2 separate regions of the Homo sapiens genome follow, and region 2 is linked to region 1. Evidence: fine-mapped expression QTL. Tissue or cell type: whole blood. Region 1 holds a variant in brackets; the other region holds the start of a gene. All regions are shown on one strand. Distances are from middle to middle.

Region 1 (8,105 bases):
AAAACAGGCACTATGAAGTTGTATTCTCTGGGTTGGTGAGAGCTAGGGATGTTATGCTGATACCCCACCTGACTGCTCCACTACCAAGTGCTCCCCAAAGAGATTTGGAATAAAGGAGGAGGAGGCCTTGGTTCTTAACTAAGGATGATTCCAACCATCTGCAAAAGCAGGCATCAAGTAGAAGATTACTTGGCTGTTTCCACATCGAAACCAAATGGGCTTTCTTTCTCCCCCTAACGCTGGCCTCAGCCCTCATTCTGCCTGCATGAGAAGGCGGTGTCTAGTACTGCCCCTCCCAGGCCTCTCCAGGCTTCCTTCTTCCTGCTCTTCCCACCTTGGGACAATTGCCCCTGCCCTCCCTTCTGCCCTGTGTCCCTCTTCCTGCTCCCACCACAGCAAGCCCCACCTCCTCCAAGAAGGCTTCCCAGACTCCTCTGTCCCTTCCAGGTGAGGCTAGTTCTAGGGCCCTGAACAAATTCCATTTGGCTTCCCAACTGAGGGTAAGGTGGCAGGGATGGGTCTTAGGAAGATCAACTGCAGGATGGATGTGAGTGTAACCACTGTATTTCTGACTTCTTCGACCACTGCTTATGGTGAGAAAGATATCTCCTGTCCCAAGCAGGACACACCTCAATGTATGGATACATAGCACTGAAGCAAAAGTTTTTTTTTTTTTTTTTTGAGGCAGAGTCTTGCTCTGTCACCCAGGCTGGAGTGCAGTGGCGTGATCTTGGCTCACTGCAAGCTCCGCCTCCCGGGTTCGCACCATTCTTCTGCCTCAGCCTCCCGAGTAGCTGGGACTACAGGTGCCCGTCACCACGCCTGGCTAATTTTTTTTTTGTATTTTTAGTACAGACGGGGTTTCACTGTGTTAGCCAGGATGGTCTCGATCTCCTGACCTCGTGATCTGCCTGCCTCGGCCTCCCAAAGTGCTGGGATTACAGGTGTGAGCCACTGCACCCGGCCGCAAAAGTTTTGTCAAAACAATATTCACCCTGACTACATGTGATGTGCTTGGATATTATTCTGTTTAATTAATTAATTAATTAATTTATTTATTTATTTTTTGAGACGGAGTCTCGCTCTGTCACCCAGGCCGGAGTGCAGCGGCGCGATCTCGGCTCACTGCAAGCTCCGCCTTCCAGGTTCACGCCATTTTCCTGCCTCAGCCTCCTGAGTAGCTGGGACTACAGGTGCCTGCCACCACGCCCAGCTAATTTTTTTTTTTGTATTTTTAATAGAGACAGGGTTTCACCGTGTTAGCCAGGATGGTCTTGATCTCCTGACCTCATGATCCGCCCTCCTCGGCCTCCCAAAGTGCTGGGATTACAGGCATAAGCCACTGCACCTGTCCTATTCTGTTTATTTTTTTAAAGAGAAAGGCTGGTTGTGACCCACTAAATTGATTTCATGACCCAGTAGCAAGTCACAACCCACCAGGTGAGCAACATAGAGTGAGATCCTGGCTGCATCTTTGCCCCAGCTGTGACAGCCAGCCCTTCCCAACTCAGAGCAGCTCCAAACACAGCCCAGGCTGCCCGTTACTGTACCGCCCACATGCTGCACCCCGGGTTCCTTGAAGAGCTAGCACATGATGAGCTCATCCAAGTGGTCTCCCTGAGGGGCTCTGCTCTTTCCCAGACTCTCACTGCTCCGTTGGTCATGCTGTAAAATGGCCATGGCCACAGATGCTGTGTCAGGAGGTTGAAGTCTATAGAACACACTAGACACGTAAGAGAAGGATGCCAGGTCAGGGCCAGGGACACAGGCTGCACATCTCACCTCTCTTGATCTCATCCCTCTTAATGGGACCTCTCAGGTCTAGGGGTCTCACCAACGCTGCTCATCTAGCAGGGCCACACATAACAAATAGAAGCAGAGCAAGCCCTGGAACTCCTGCCTGACAGTGACACGACGACAGAAACATCTTACCAGTCAGAGGACCATGAGAAATAGATTCAAGGAGCATTCCACGTGCAAGTGAGTCTTGGCCCCATCTGCCTTTGGATTTTAGCCGTGAACTGGAAGGTATTGGAAAGAAGACCCTCAGAAATAGCTTAATCAAAATCCCTGCGTCTGAACCAAGTGCCTTATTTCTCTGTGGGCCTCAAGCTTCGCTGACATCTGTGGAGCACACTGTCCTAACAGGAGTGCTGTCTGATTTCCCAACGCTCTGCAAAACAAACAGCCTGGAAGGGTGGCTGGTGGAAGGTGGTTTTTAGAGAGAGACTTGTAGATAACAGGAAAGTGAAGGCTGTAAGGAAGGTTGTAATTAAACAGCACATGGAAACACAATCACATTATTGTCCCATTCCATAGGGATAATGATGACCACTTCAGTGGGAAAAGGAGAGGTTTTAAGTCATTAGGGACTATGGGCCACCTTTTAGGAAGATTTATTTTCAAAGGTTAAAATAGTGTTTTGGCAATTCAAGTTTCATTTTCAGAAAATGTAATTGATGGGAACCTCAGTGACTCTGGATGAATAAGATGCTGTTGAGTGGCTCTGACTTGGGCCAGCCGTGCTTCTCACAGGACCTTGGAGACCAAGGTCACTGTGATCTCAGGTTCAGGGGGCAAGTCCTCTCCACACAGCCCTAGTTGGCCTCACAGCTGAAAATGTCTCCCTTACTGTTGGACTCCTTTGTTCACCCACATGAGTTTGTGAATAAATCCTTTCCAGTCTGAAAGCTTGCTGACACTTGGAGACAGGTGTGGAGAGAGGACTCTGAGCTGGACACTTCCTGGGGATGGCAGGCCTGGTGGGATGGCCTAAGTAGCCATGGGACAGGACACAGCAACTCAGATGTGGGCTAGGGGTGCAGTTTGTGGAGCAGTGGCGGAGGGGTAGGCAGGTGTGGGCTTGAGGACAAATTCTGCCCTCTTCGCTACGTGGCCTGAGCCAGGGCAGCCCACTTGCCGAGGCAGGGCCGGGTCTCTGTTTCTTTGGTAGCCTGATTCCTCCCCACTCCCTGGCCACGTGGTCCCCAGATCTGCTTCTGTGAATCACCCTGAGTGACTGCAGGGGTGCTTCAATCAGTGAGGGGATCTCAAAGAAAAGCCAGGTATTTCTTAGACAAGGATTCTTAGATAAGGTTGATTTATTCCTCACCGTCTGAGAAAGCAACAGTCTAGTAGAAGGCAGTGGGGCCCAGGGCTCTGTCACCTCACCAGGAGGTCTCTGTCTTGACAATAGATTACTACGTAATGCACGTGTAATGCATTGCACATCCTATTGTTGACATTTTGCAAATCTAATTTAATTACAAAATGATGAAACCATTTCTCCCAAAGGGGGAGGATAACATGAAATCACAATAATAACCTAAAATAACAATATCAAAGTTCTAGGAAAAGATTTTAGACAAACCACTCTGTGACATGTCCCCAAGGCGAGAATGGAGTAGGGCTTGATCAAAATGGTGGTCTCAAACAAGCTGCCTAAAGGAATTATTATTTCAGTGGGATTAGAATAATGTGAGGGGTAGAGGAAAACCTGCCAGGCATAAGCATTCCACCTAGTGGAAATTAGATTTTGATGATGAAATCGCAAATGATTTTAACAGGGAGGAAGGGGGCGGGCAGCAGCCAAGGAGAACAGATGAGTGTAGGTTTTCAATGAACCTGCTGGGTTTTCACACTGCCTGATGCCTTGGCTGTGATATACCATGGGTATGTCAGAATGTCCAGAAGGACCGAAGTCTAGAATTAGCAACGATTGTAAAGGAATCCTGGTCAGCACCAAAGTTGTTTGTTTGCTTCCTTATTGGTCTGTTTGGAGCAAGAGGATGGACAAGGCAGCGACTCCCCTCGGCTAGGCGAAGACGCCGAGTAGAGAGAACAAAAAAGTGCACAATTCCCATTTTGTTTCCAATTCTACTTCCCTTGAGAATAGTCCTCACACTGGCAGAAAAAAAAAAAGTGGAACAAAGATCATTAAGAGTGAAATGAAGCCCCTAACAGAAGAGAAAATGTAAAATAGAGCTCTCTCAACTCTGTCCTAGAAAACGACCCACTTGTCACATTCCCCATAGGTGGTCACATTCCCCACAGGTGGTCACGTTCCCCACGGGTGGTCATCCAGGTTGGCCAGAGCCCCCAAAGCAGCACTTCTGGAGAGAGGTGGCATGACCAGAGACAAATCCATTTATTAGTCCTAAATTTCAAGACAGAGAAGAGAAACTTGCTGAGCAATGTGTTTTTTCTCTTTTCCTTTTTTTAAATAAAGCCCCGCAGTGGCTCACGCCTGTAATCCCAGCACTTTGGGAGGCCGAGGTGGGCGGATTGCCTGAGGTCGGGAGTTCAAGACCAGCCTGGCCAACATGGTGAAACCCCTCTCTACTAAAAATACAAAATTAGCCAGGTCTGGTGGTGCATACCTGTAATCCCAGCTACTCGGGAGACTGAGGCAGGAGAATCGCTTGAACCCGGGAGGCGAAGATTGTGGTGAGCCGAGATTGGGCCATTGCACTCCAGCCTGGGCAACGAGAGTGAGACTCCATCTCAAAAAAATAACAAATAAAGCCCCTGAAGGGAGGCTTCTCTGGGCTGCAGGTGACCCAGCCCCCAGAGGAACAATAAATGACTTTGGGGTAACAAAGTCATGACTCAAAGTAGTCTTGTCAGGGTGGAAAAAAGAAGACATTTTACAAGGGAAAATGTAAC[A/G]TTTTATATTTGGGTTCACTAAAATGATTCGTTCAAATACATAGTGGAGGAGCGTGGGGGCCCAAGGGGACTGGTTTTCCATGGGTTCCTTATGGACCAAGAGTGTGAAGATCAGGAGAGCCCCCACACATGGGAGGCAAGGACCTAGCACAGGGAGGGCCGCAGCCTTTCTCCATCCCCGCTTCTTGGGCCAACTGCCCGTGTGTGGGGTGCAGCTCTCAGATCCCAGCCAAGTAGGAATTCCCCAGGCAGGTCACCAAGAGGAAGGGGGTGTGGGGGCAGAGCAGTGGTGACGATGCAGGGGCTGTTAGCCAGAGGAGAGGTGAATTTATATAGCTGAAAAGCCACCAAAGATGAGAGAGGGACCGTTCTTTATGTCCAGCAGGCCACGTTTGAGGAGGCTGGCTGGGGTCCCATCTGAGATGAGTGCCGGTGTGGTGCGGAGTTCCCTGCCAAAGGAGGGTCTACACAGTCTCAAGATGGCCTCTCTGCCAGGGTACACCTCAGAAGGGATCTTAGAGGCTGCGTATGAAGGTGGCCCGAGGGCGCCTAATGTCCCTTCCCAAGAAGTTGATGATTACCATGGATGAGGAGTCAGTAGGAGAGAAAGTGTCCTTGTCCAGGCAGCTGGGAGGAGTGGTTAAAAGGGAGGCCAGGTGTGGTGGCTCACACCTGTAATCCCTGCACTTTGGGAGGCCAAGGCAGGGAGATGGCTTGAGTCCAGGACTTAGAGACCAGCCTGGGCAACATAGTAAGACCTCATCTCCACAAAACATTTTTTAAAAAATTAGCGAAGTGTGGCAGGAGGCTCAGGTGGGAGGATCACATGAGCCCTAGATGTCGAGGCTACAGTAAGCCCTGATCACACAACTGCACTCCAGCCTGGGCCGCAGAGTGAGACCCTGTCTACATAAATGAACAGGCTGGGCACAGTGGCTCATGCCTGTAATCCAAGCACTTTGGGAGGCTGAGGTGGGAGGATCATTTGAGGTCAGGAGTTCGAGACCAGCCTGGCCAACATGCTGAAACCCTATCTCTAATATAAATACAAATATTAGCCGGACATGGTGGCGGGGGCCTGTAATCCCAGCTACTCGGGAGGCTGAGGAATGAGAATCGCATGAACCCAGGAGGTGGAGGTTGCAGTGAGCCAAGATCTCGCCATTGTACTCCAACCTGGACAATAGAGTGAGACTCTGTTTCAAAAAAATAAAATAAAATAAAAATACATAAACAAACAAAAATAAAAAGGGCAAACCAAGGCACCGGGGTTCAAGCCCTGCCTCTGTCACTTTGTATGACCTTTGGCAAGGTACTTAAGCTCTCTGTGCCTCAGTGCCTTCATTAAAAATGAGGATCATGGCAACAGGACACACCTGCGAGGATTTCCGTGAGGGTTAAAAGAGTTAAATGAAGATTCTTAGCACTGTGGCCACACCCATGGCAAGGGCCATGTGCTGGATAGCTGCTGCAACTGTCATTGTCACCATCATCATCATCACCGCTGATTTAACATGCAGTTACTGAACCCTGTCTATGTGCCAGGGGAGTAGAGACCAGTAGGGTGGGTCCCCGCCTTCAAGAAGTCACAGCCCAGCATAGAAAGCACAGAATTGTCACATGCAGAGATGGGTTAGGGGCAGCACAGGGTGTGGTCACATCACCTGGGTGGGGCCCAGGAAGGCTCCTGGGGTTGGCGGGCCAGTGCCTCTGAAACCATGACGTGGCTCAGAAGCATTTCAGCATCTTGTTTTCCCGTGCTCATCAGGCTGTTTACTCTGGGGGCGGCTGTGCACTTAGTGCCCCCTCCACGCCCCAAATGAGCGCCGGGACTGGCCAGGACTGGCAGGGCTGGCTGGGCAGGTCCAAGGGCTCAGGGACCCGCCCCAGGGCCTCCTGGGCACACCTGGGGCCCACAGCCCCCCATTCCTGGGCCTTAAGGCCTGAACTCTGAGGCCCCCCATGTACGTGCACCCCTCTGTGCCAAGCACTGTCCTGTGCTGTGCTGTGGTGTTGTGTCTGATCCTGGGAGATGGGTGGTGTCAGGGTCATTCTCATTTTACAGCTAAGAAAATAGGCTGGGACATTAAATGTCTTATAAAAGGCCCAGCCAGGACTTGGAGCCAAGGTTTCCAATGCCAAAATCAGGTGCCGTTTCCATACCCCACCCTGGGCAAGACCAGAGGTGACTCAGCCAAGAACCCTGCCCTCCAGGAGGAGATGGAGCCAGAAATCTGAAAACTGACCCTCCAGCCCGGGAGAAGTGTGGCGGGGCTGTGAGAGCCCTGCCCTCTGGGCCCTATCCCCTGCCCATGCAGATTCTTGCAAAGTGGCCCCTGCCTGCTCACTCTTCATGGAAGCATCTCCTGGTCAGTGGTTGTTTTAGAGAAGGAAGGCAGTGGTTTAGGAAAAAAAAAGTGTTCTTTAGTGGTGGCAGCCTTTTTGTCAAATAAAATTTTATCAGAATACACTCAAAATTGGTAACAGGAGAGCCGTTCTGGGTACAGAGATTGAGGGGAACCTGTGTGTGACCTCTTGCTTCCTGACCCCTCCCATCCTACTCCAGACTCTTCTGCAGAACCCCATGTTGACCCCTGCTTTGAGGTGGCAGAGTTAACACTACTCTTCGTTATAAGCTCTCGTCTGGGGCAACTCAGAAGAACGTAAGTTCCATGGGGAAGGTTTTTGTTTGTTTCTAATTGTGGTAAAATATATATAACATAAAATCGACCATTTTAATGATTTTTGAGTGTACAATTCAGTGACATTAAGTATATTTACAATATCATGTAACCATCAACACCATTCATCTTCAGAACTTCTTCATCTTCCCACACTGAAACTCTCTACCCACTAAACACTAACTCCCACTACCCACCAAACATTTCCCTCCCTGCAGCTCCTGCAACCACCGCTGTACTTTCTGTCTCTATGAACTTGACTACTCTAGACACCTCATGTAAGTAGAATCATAGAGTATTTGTCCTTTTATGTCTGGTTCTTTCACTTAGCATAATGTTTTCAAGATTCATCCATGTTGTAGCATGTGTCAGAACTTCATTGCTTTTTACGGCTGAATAATATTCCATTGTGTAACTGTACCACATGTTCATCTGTTCAGCCATGCGTGGGCGCTTGGGTTGTTTCTTCCTTTCAGCTATTGCAAACCAATAATGCTGCTGTGAACATGGGTGCGCAAATATCTGTTTGAATCCCTGCTTTCAGTTCTTTTGGGTCTATACCTAAAGAAGTGGAATTGCTGCATCATATGGTAATTCTATGTTTAACTTCTTGGGGAACCACCATATCATTTTCCACAGTGGCTGTATACTACTTTACATACCCACTGGCAATGCACACAGATTCCAGTTTCTCCACATTCTCCCCATTGTGGCAGGGGTTTTAAACCTCTTCATCACGGGTGCACCCCCGGAGACTAG
Region 2 (8,105 bases), 95 kb before region 1:
GTGGGGAGGAGGTTCAGGAAAGTCTGAGGCCTACTTTTCTTTCTTTTTTCTTTTTTGAGACAGGGTCTTGCTCTGTCGCTCAGGCTGAGTGCATTGGTATGATCACAGGCCACTGCAGCCTCGACCTCCCAGGTGCAGGGCAATCCTCCCACTTTAGCCTCCCAAGTAGCTGGAACTACAGGTGCACACCACCACACTTGTCTAATTTTTTTTTCTTTTTTTTTTTTTTTTGTAGAGACGAGGTTTCACCATGTTGCCCAGGTTGGTCTCAAACTCCTGAGCTCAAGTGATCTGCCCACCTCGGCCTCCCAGTGTTGGTATTACAGGCATGAGCCACTGCACCTGGCCTAATTTTTGGTATTAAGACCTGCTTTTCATAGGGCATTCAAACTGCTTCACCCAGCATTTCAGGGATTCTTCAAAGACTATTTGGCTTGGTGTTTGAGGGTTCAAGCTTATATCCCCTCTTGCCTTGATTTGGATTTGTGCTTATTGTTCCCAGAAGGCATGGTACCCACTTCTGGGTCTTCACTAGGTCCCCCTCCCTCCCCACCTGTCTTGGCCTCTCAGTCCAACTCATTTAATACACATTGCTTTGTTTCCTACCTTTTAATCATCTGTCTTCTCTGCCCAGATTTTGTGGCCAACCCTCAGCCCCCAGAAATGGGCCTTTTGGCTTTTTATAATCGAGTACACTGAAATTTACTGTGTTCTAAGCACTGTTCTGTTTTATATACATGCTTTCATTTTATTTTCACAAGCCCAGAAGGTGTTAATTTTAACATCTTCATTTATAGAGATTAATTTGTCCAAAGCCATGAATAGGAGGCAGAACTCAAATTTGAAAGCAAGTCTAACTCCAGAATTTGGGCTCCTTTCAGTGACTGCTTGCCTAACCCTGCGTGACCACATAATAAGCCTCAACGAATATTTACTGTGGATAATACTCCCCTCCCACAGGAACTTCTCTTTGCCATGAGTGATCTCCCATAGTGCCTGGGGTTTGAACTACCCACTTTGGCACCTACTGGTCTATTGTCTGATACTATTGTTTCTTCTTTCCCTCATCTCAGGCTCTATTTTCTCATACTATTGTTTCTAATGTTGCCTTTGCCTAGCAGTTTTCCTTCTCTCATCAGGTCAGGGATAGTCCTATTGGCTGACGTGGGCGTGAGGGTGCTACGGCCTTCACAGCGGGATCTTCCTCCTCCACTGAAGACAATCAGTGGCATTCAAATCTAAGACTCCTTTGGGGTGTTTGTTAAAAATACAGCTGATTAGTTTTGGGGTGGGACAGAGGAATCTGCATCTTTAACACTCAGATCATTCTTAGGTTATAGTCAGTGCATCAGTCTACATTCCCGCCTTGTGAAGACTGACCCATTTAGGCAGGATTATTTCCTGGTATAGGGATTCTCTAAACATTGCACACAGCTGAAGAATTGGAAACTGGGCCTCTTTTGTTTCTGGATACACCACTTGGCAGGTGTAATAACATCCTCTGACAGGCTGCTTGCCACAGGTGCATGCTTGACACGTGCGTCTCGTTGGTACCGTCCCCTCCCCCCTTCCCACCCCTGCTGCCCAACCAAGACCCCTCTAGTCCCACCACCACCCGGCAGCTGTTGCCCTCCTCCAAGCCCCCAATCCTCCCCGGCCCACTGCCCTCCCTTCCTTTCCTTTCCCTGCCCCCACACCCCTTCCCCAGGCTCCTCCCACCCCAGAATATTTTTTTGTTCCTAAGTTTATCCTGTGAGGTGGGGGTGGGGGAACTGGTTAGATGGAGAGGACGCTCTGCCATTTAGAGGTCCTACTGAGTGGGCACACCTTTTCCCCTCGAGAAAACCTTGTTTCTACCAGAGAAATGGGCAGAGGCCTCTCTCTGGAACTTGAACCTCTCTGTCCCTGGAAACATCCCAAAGCAGGCCCAGCCTGCCATGTTCCTTTGTTGGGGCACAGAGGGAATGGAATCTTACCGATAAGGTGAGAAGAGCTTGAGAGAATACCAAGGACGGGCCCACCCTTCTCCCTCCTCCCTCCAAACACCTCAGGCTAAAAGGGGAGGGAAAAAAAAGGCACCAACAAAGAGTTTAAGACAGCAATTCCCAGCTTTTTCAAATATGAAGCATTTTTTAACCAATCCGTTTTTTAATTCTTAAATTCTTGACATTACAGAACTAAACTGAAATTTATTAACATTCCACTCTTACATTTCTTATCGACAAACAGAAATAAAATTCATGAGCCAAAAAACCCAAAACAAAACTAAAAACAGGGAAAAGCTTATAAAACTAAATATGGATCCCAGCATTAACAGCTGAACAGAGAATGTGATTTTTAAATTCTTAGCGGATGATAAAGTTGTGTAGAAACTGAACACTTACAAATTATTTAAAACCTGGAATCACTGACCAGAAATTACACAGTTGGATCATGGGAGAACAGCAGAAAGGGGTTATTGAGGGAACCTACACTGTTCTAGCTGCACCCCATGCCCTTCTCAGAGGAAAGCCTGGCATTGATTAGATACTGGGCCAGACTAATACTGGCAGCAGAGCCAGTGATAGTAACCTGCCTACCAGAGGAGCCTTCCACTGGGTTGGCAATTTTGATCTGGGCCCCGGACATCTGGCGGATCTCATTAATGTTGGCGCCTTGGCGCCCGATTATGCAGCCAATTAAGTTATTTGGAATGGTGAGTTCATGGGTGGTTTGAGTAGATGCATCCAAACTTGCCCAATAGCCTTTCACCTCTGGAGAGCTGGAGTCAATTCCGGCGAATCCGGTCCCGCCGTGCATCATGGCAAAGTGAGACTGTTGTCTTGCCACCTGGTTCAGCTTGGCCAGATCGAGCGGAGAAATGGTGTGTTGTCCTTGAATCGAGTAGGCATCTAGAGGTGGTCCCTCCAGGTCATGGGTGGCATGGGGGTAGCCCGCAGCGTCGCTGCACCGATCTTGGCCGCCCGCGCAGATGACTGGGGAGCTGGCCGGCATGGGCTGGTACGGAATGGTCATGACTCTCCCTTGCGGAGACTGGGAGAGCGTCTCCAGCATGACCAGGCAAATCTGCTTGACACACTCGGTGACAGACTGCGGCACGCCAGCGATGGTGATGGCCCGCTCGGTGGAGTTGGGCAGCATATCCCCCGCCACCTGGACCTGCGCCCCCGTACTCTCGCGGATCTCTTTGATCTTACACCCGCCTTTCCCAATCAGGGAGCCGCACTGGGTGGCCGGCACCACCAGCCTCAGGGTGACCGGGGGCCTGCTGGCCGCGGTACTGTTGGTCATGGAGCTGTTGATATCTTCCTCCAGCTTGTCGATGATCATAGCGAAAGCCTTAAAGATGGCATTGGTGGGGCCGGTCAGAGTGATGATTCTCTCCGGACAATTCCCCTCCGAGATGTTGATCCGCGCGCCACTCTCCTCGCGGATCCTCTTAACCGACTCCCCTTTCTTCCCAATGATGCTTCCTACTTCCTTTCCGTGCATAAGAAGCCGAATGGTGAGAGTCACATTTAGTCCACTTTCAGTCACACCGGCATCCATGGCGAGCGGCGGGCGGCGTTCGGGGGAGTTGGGCTCGTTACGTGGTCAAGTCTTTGGCGGCTGGCGGGGGGAGGGGAGGTGTAGGCCCAAAACTGCCGGCGCGAGGCGAGCGAGGGCCGCGGGAGCGAGCGGGAGCGGGCGGGAGGCCGCAGCGTAGTCGCAGGGGCGGGCGGCGGCGGCGGAGGGGGCGAGCGGGGCCGGGAGCGGCGGGCGGGCGGGTGGGCGAGGGCGCGGCGGTGGCGACTCCGGCGGCAGCCTCGGCGGTCTGGGCGGGGCGGGAAGCCCGCTTTCAACCCCGCGTACCCTCTGACCCCGGAAGTGCTTGCTGCGCAGGACCCCTTGAAAAAAAATGAGGACCCGTCTTTTTTAGGTCACAAGATTGCGCCAACCCTTACATGGTCCTTAAAAAAAAAACCTTCTGACACTGCAGTAGTGAAAATGAAGCGCACGATGGGCGGAAGCTGTGAGTCCGGCAAAGTTTTAAAATGATGACGTATTTTATTAACTCTAACGGCACTGGCGGGTGACTGAAAATACTAGTGCTGTGTATGCGGGATAGACATTATTTTCCTGCCCTACATGAGGGGCTCGTGCGCGGAACGACATGGGCAGCCCCGGCGGAAACTGCAGGCACAAGCCGGGACGCCGCGGGTTTAAAACATGCGCGTGAGGTGACCAGAGCGCGTGCGCGAGGGTGTGGGGGGATGGGAGGGGCAGCAGCCCTCTTCCGGGGGGGAGGGGCGGCGAGGCGAGGCCTGCGGAGCGGGTGCGCGCGGGCGGGCACGTGGGGCCCTTTCGTCCCCGGCGTCCGGGCGCCCTGCATGGATCCCCCACCCCAGCTCCTGCTCCCCGGCGGCGGCCGGTGGGCAGAAAGACCGAAACCCACTCACGGCCGCCTGCCGAATCGCGGCTCTGCTGTTTGTGGGGCGTGCTAGAAACGTGGTCCTAAAAAGAATGGCGTCCATTTACATAATGCTTTGTTTGCGTTTCGCAAGTTTCTTTCGGTTAAAGCCACAGAAACCCCACCTCCTGCCCTTGTGTCGTTTCCACCGCGGCACCCTTTTCCGACATTAGAAACAATAGTGTACGCCTGTGGAGGCCTCGTTTGTTCAGGGGCTGCCGGCCAGGGCTTCAGGACGTTTCTGCGGCTTTCCCCGCGCGGCCTGGGCTCCCGCGGCTGCTTTTCGGGCCCATGGGCGCAGCCACTGCGCCAGGCTCAAGGGGGGCGGCCCCGTCAGGGCCCGCCATCTTGGAAGGCCTTTTTTGCCGGTTCTTCCCGCTGAGGAAGTGTCGCTCAAGACGCTGGCCTATGAGTTGTGATTTCTGCCTTTTCCCCTTCCTCCTTGGGCTAAGCCAGACCAGAAAGGGCCCCGTGCGCAACGTGCTTCACAATCTCTCAGGGAAAGCGGCTAACGTGGCGCTACTCCGCCTCCCCTGTTCCTTACCCTTGGGGCGGCCGCCATGTTTCCTGAACACAAAATGGCGACACGTGGTTAGCATTCGTCGCCAACGAGAAATTGGGGTCGGCCCGAAAGCTCTAGAATGCACCCCTCTTCCTCCCCGGGGCCTTCCACCTCCGCGAGTTTTATGACTTAAAAAAGCCCACAGGCTGGTCTGAAGGTCGGAGGCCTAATTTTAACGCGTTTTCCTCCCTTTAATTTGAAACGGGAACGCGAATGACTGTAAAATGTGGGCACAATATTTAATCTCTCGCCTTTTTAAAGCTTAATAGTGGATAATAGGGGGGCAGTATCAAGGGATAATTTGGGTCCCCACAGTACCAAAGCATTTAGAAACCTCTGTTTAATTTAAGGAATGAGATAAGTTACTGCTTTTCTAGACTTCCTAGCATGGGCTGTTGTGCTGGAGAGAACGAGAGCTACGAAGAGACTACAGTGCCTCTGACTTTTTCATAGGACAGTTGGCCGGTGAATCTTATTAATAGTTTACCACAATTAAGTGTTCATTTTTAGTCTAGAAGGGACAGGCGTTTATTGTGCATTGGCCAGTGCCAGCACATCCGATGCAAGGCAGTTCACCGTATTCTATCTTTAATTTTTACCATGGTCCTCTGAGGTAGGTGTTCTTATCTCTCTCTCTCTCTCTCTCTTTTAAACAGAGGAAGACAAACATAAAGATGAAGTGCTTAATTCAAGGTCACACAATGTCGGGGATGGACCTCCAGATTTCCTTACTGGTGAGCACATTTTCCAGGTTTTTCTGTAAATCAGGGTTTTGGAATTTAAATACTATTTAAAACGTTTAGGTGAGCTTGTCATTTAAATGAGCCCTTCAGGTAATCTTTTGTTGTGCAGTCAGCCCCTTTTTGTATCAGGCAGCTCCCAGCTTTTCCTGATAAGAGCTACACCTGTAACGGGCGGGCGGGCTGAAATGCTGTCTTATGCAGTGTCTGGTGAGGATAGGGAGGGGGAAGTGATTCAGCCTGCCCAGAGGCTCAGGTGTCTGTCGGTCTGGCCCTGTCTGTGGCACATTTGAGCCTACCTGCCTCTGGGGGAGCAAATGGTTTTTTGTATGACTGACTTGCTTCCGTCAGCTCCCCATGGGCTTGACTCTTGCCTCCCCCACCCCAGCACCCCAACCAGGTAAAAATAAATTCGCTCTGGCACCAAGCCTCCATTTCTCTGCAGAGATTGACAGAGCATGACAGAGTGTTAGGTCAGTCTGTGGACTCTTCAGTTCAATGCAACACGTAGCTAGTGGGCCAAGCAACAAACTGGTGCCTGAGCAGGGCTCTGATTGTGTGTGGATATGAGAGACAAAGAGAAGGGCTTTTTGCCTTTAACTTATGTTACTATCAGATATATTTTCCAAAGTGGTTTCATGTTAGTTTATATAACTCTACGAACATTTAATAGGTACATAACAGCAACGATGACAGTTACAGCACTAGGTGCTTACTGTGTGCTGGGCATTGTTCTAAGCCTTATTTTATGTATTCAGTGTCTCACATTTTTAAAAAAACCACTAAGAAACAAATTTTACATTATGATTTAAGACATTTATGCACACATATGTAACAAAATTTTTGCAAAACAATATTTGTTACTACATGCAGTATATGTACTTGGGTAATTTCTATTCTTTATATATAAAAAGGACACATTATAAAGTGATTAAAAACCCATTAATAAGTTGTGACCGCTTATACACATTTAATCCTCACAAAACCTCCTGAAATGGGTGGTGATATTAGGTCAGTTTTACAGAGGTACAGATTAGTGAAGGAATTTATCCAAGGTCACACAGCTATTAAGTGGTAAAGCAAGGATTTGAATTTAGGCAATCTGAGTCCAGAGACTCCATTCTTAACCACTAAACTGGATGTGGTCTCTGCAGAGAGTCCTGTCTCATAGGGAGACAGAATAGATGAGGGAATTAAAAATATTACCAAGTGTTAGAAACTCAGGTGACAACAAAAGGACTAAATTGCATATAATCAAGGAATGTTCAAACAAAGCCTTCTTCTGGTCTTTTAAATCTAACTTATTTCTTTTCTCTAGAGAAAATTTTATCTGTCAGGTCTTTCTTTCCAAGACTACCTACTGAAATATTTCCATAATTTCCTGTTATGTACTCCTGGGACTTAGTGCACCTCCTCAGTGAAGCCTTCCCTTTCCCAGCTTCCCCAGCTCTTAGCCTCCCTCCTTCCCCGAGAGTCTTAACAGTTTCTCCCTTCGGTAGCCCACGTTTGGACGTTGGTTAAATTGTAATGTGTCTTGGGGTTGGTAACATGTCATACAGACACCTTGGGTGATGCTGTGGTCTGGCAAAGAGGTCATTGGACCTTGGAATCTGAGGCTCTGGGCCCTAGTCCTAGCTCTGCCCCTGTCTAGCTCTGAGACTTCTACAACTCATCTGTCAGGGTTTCAGTTCTCCCTTTTATAAAGCAAGAGATTAAATGATCTCTAAGGGTCCTTCTACTTATGTCCAGGGACTGATGATATTTGATGACTTTGGTTATTTTTCTTTGGCGGGGTGGGAGGTTTATGTAAATGTTTTCTGCACTTTTGGTAAAATCTCCACTCCCTTCCTCAGACCTGCATTATCTTGTGGATACCTGAGTGAATTCCACACCACCCATTTTATAGATGAAACCACTGAGACATGGAGCAATTGACTGAGTAGTCACTGCCCCACCCCTGCCTGGAGCCTCACACATGACTCGCCTCCTCTCAGTGACCACAGGTTGGTTGAGGGGTTTAACAAGGCTAAGAAGGTGAGTCAGGTTTAGACTTTGGAAGTTGAACCACAGGATTTATGCTACATACAGAGGAATGATTGTTGCTTCCTCTTATGTTAAGTTGGTATGTCACGTAAAACCTTTCAGAGTGCTTTCACGTTACTTGTTTAATCATCACAGACAACTTTGCCAGTAGGGTCTTATGCCCATTTTACAGAAGAGCCATTTTTGGATTAGAGGAGTGAAGTGACTTGCCCAACGTTACACAGCCTGTTAGAATTTGAGCTGAACCTCTTGACTCTTAGTTATGGATTACACCTTTCCATGGCTTCTGATGCTTTTGATATGGACTTTG

The links. PIP is the estimated chance that this variant, and not a neighbour inherited with it, causes the effect.
Region 2: PCBP1 starts here. The variant in region 1 is fine-mapped to the expression of PCBP1 in whole blood (TOPMed, PIP above 0.99).

The regions. Positions count from the first base shown.
Region 1 is chr2:69,987,965-69,996,069 of GRCh38, reverse strand. It overlaps PCBP1-AS1 (PCBP1 antisense RNA 1), which reads left to right. Exons shown (of 11, transcript NR_033872.1): 9 at 7,232-7,328. It also overlaps a transcript of ASPRV1 not described here. Among named protein-coding and RNA genes, the nearest start is that of ASPRV1, 30 kb to the right of the region's middle. RefSeq lists an enhancer at 2,404-2,903. The variant A/G (reference allele first, on the strand shown) is at 4,666.
Region 2 is chr2:70,083,188-70,091,292 of GRCh38, reverse strand. It overlaps PCBP1 (poly(rC) binding protein 1), which reads right to left and starts at 3,816. Exons shown (of 1, transcript NM_006196.4): 1 at 2,090-3,816. The coding sequence starts at 3,549. The coding sequence ends at 2,479. It overlaps PCBP1-AS1 (PCBP1 antisense RNA 1), which reads left to right and starts at 4,278. Exons shown (of 11, transcript NR_033872.1): 1 at 4,278-4,315; 2 at 5,669-5,746; 3 at 7,606-7,755. It also overlaps a transcript of ASPRV1 not described here. RefSeq lists silencers at 1,474-1,563, 1,654-1,703, 3,730-3,789, 4,240-4,389 and enhancers at 2,512-2,678, 2,750-3,394, 4,600-4,809, 4,850-4,939, 5,080-5,219.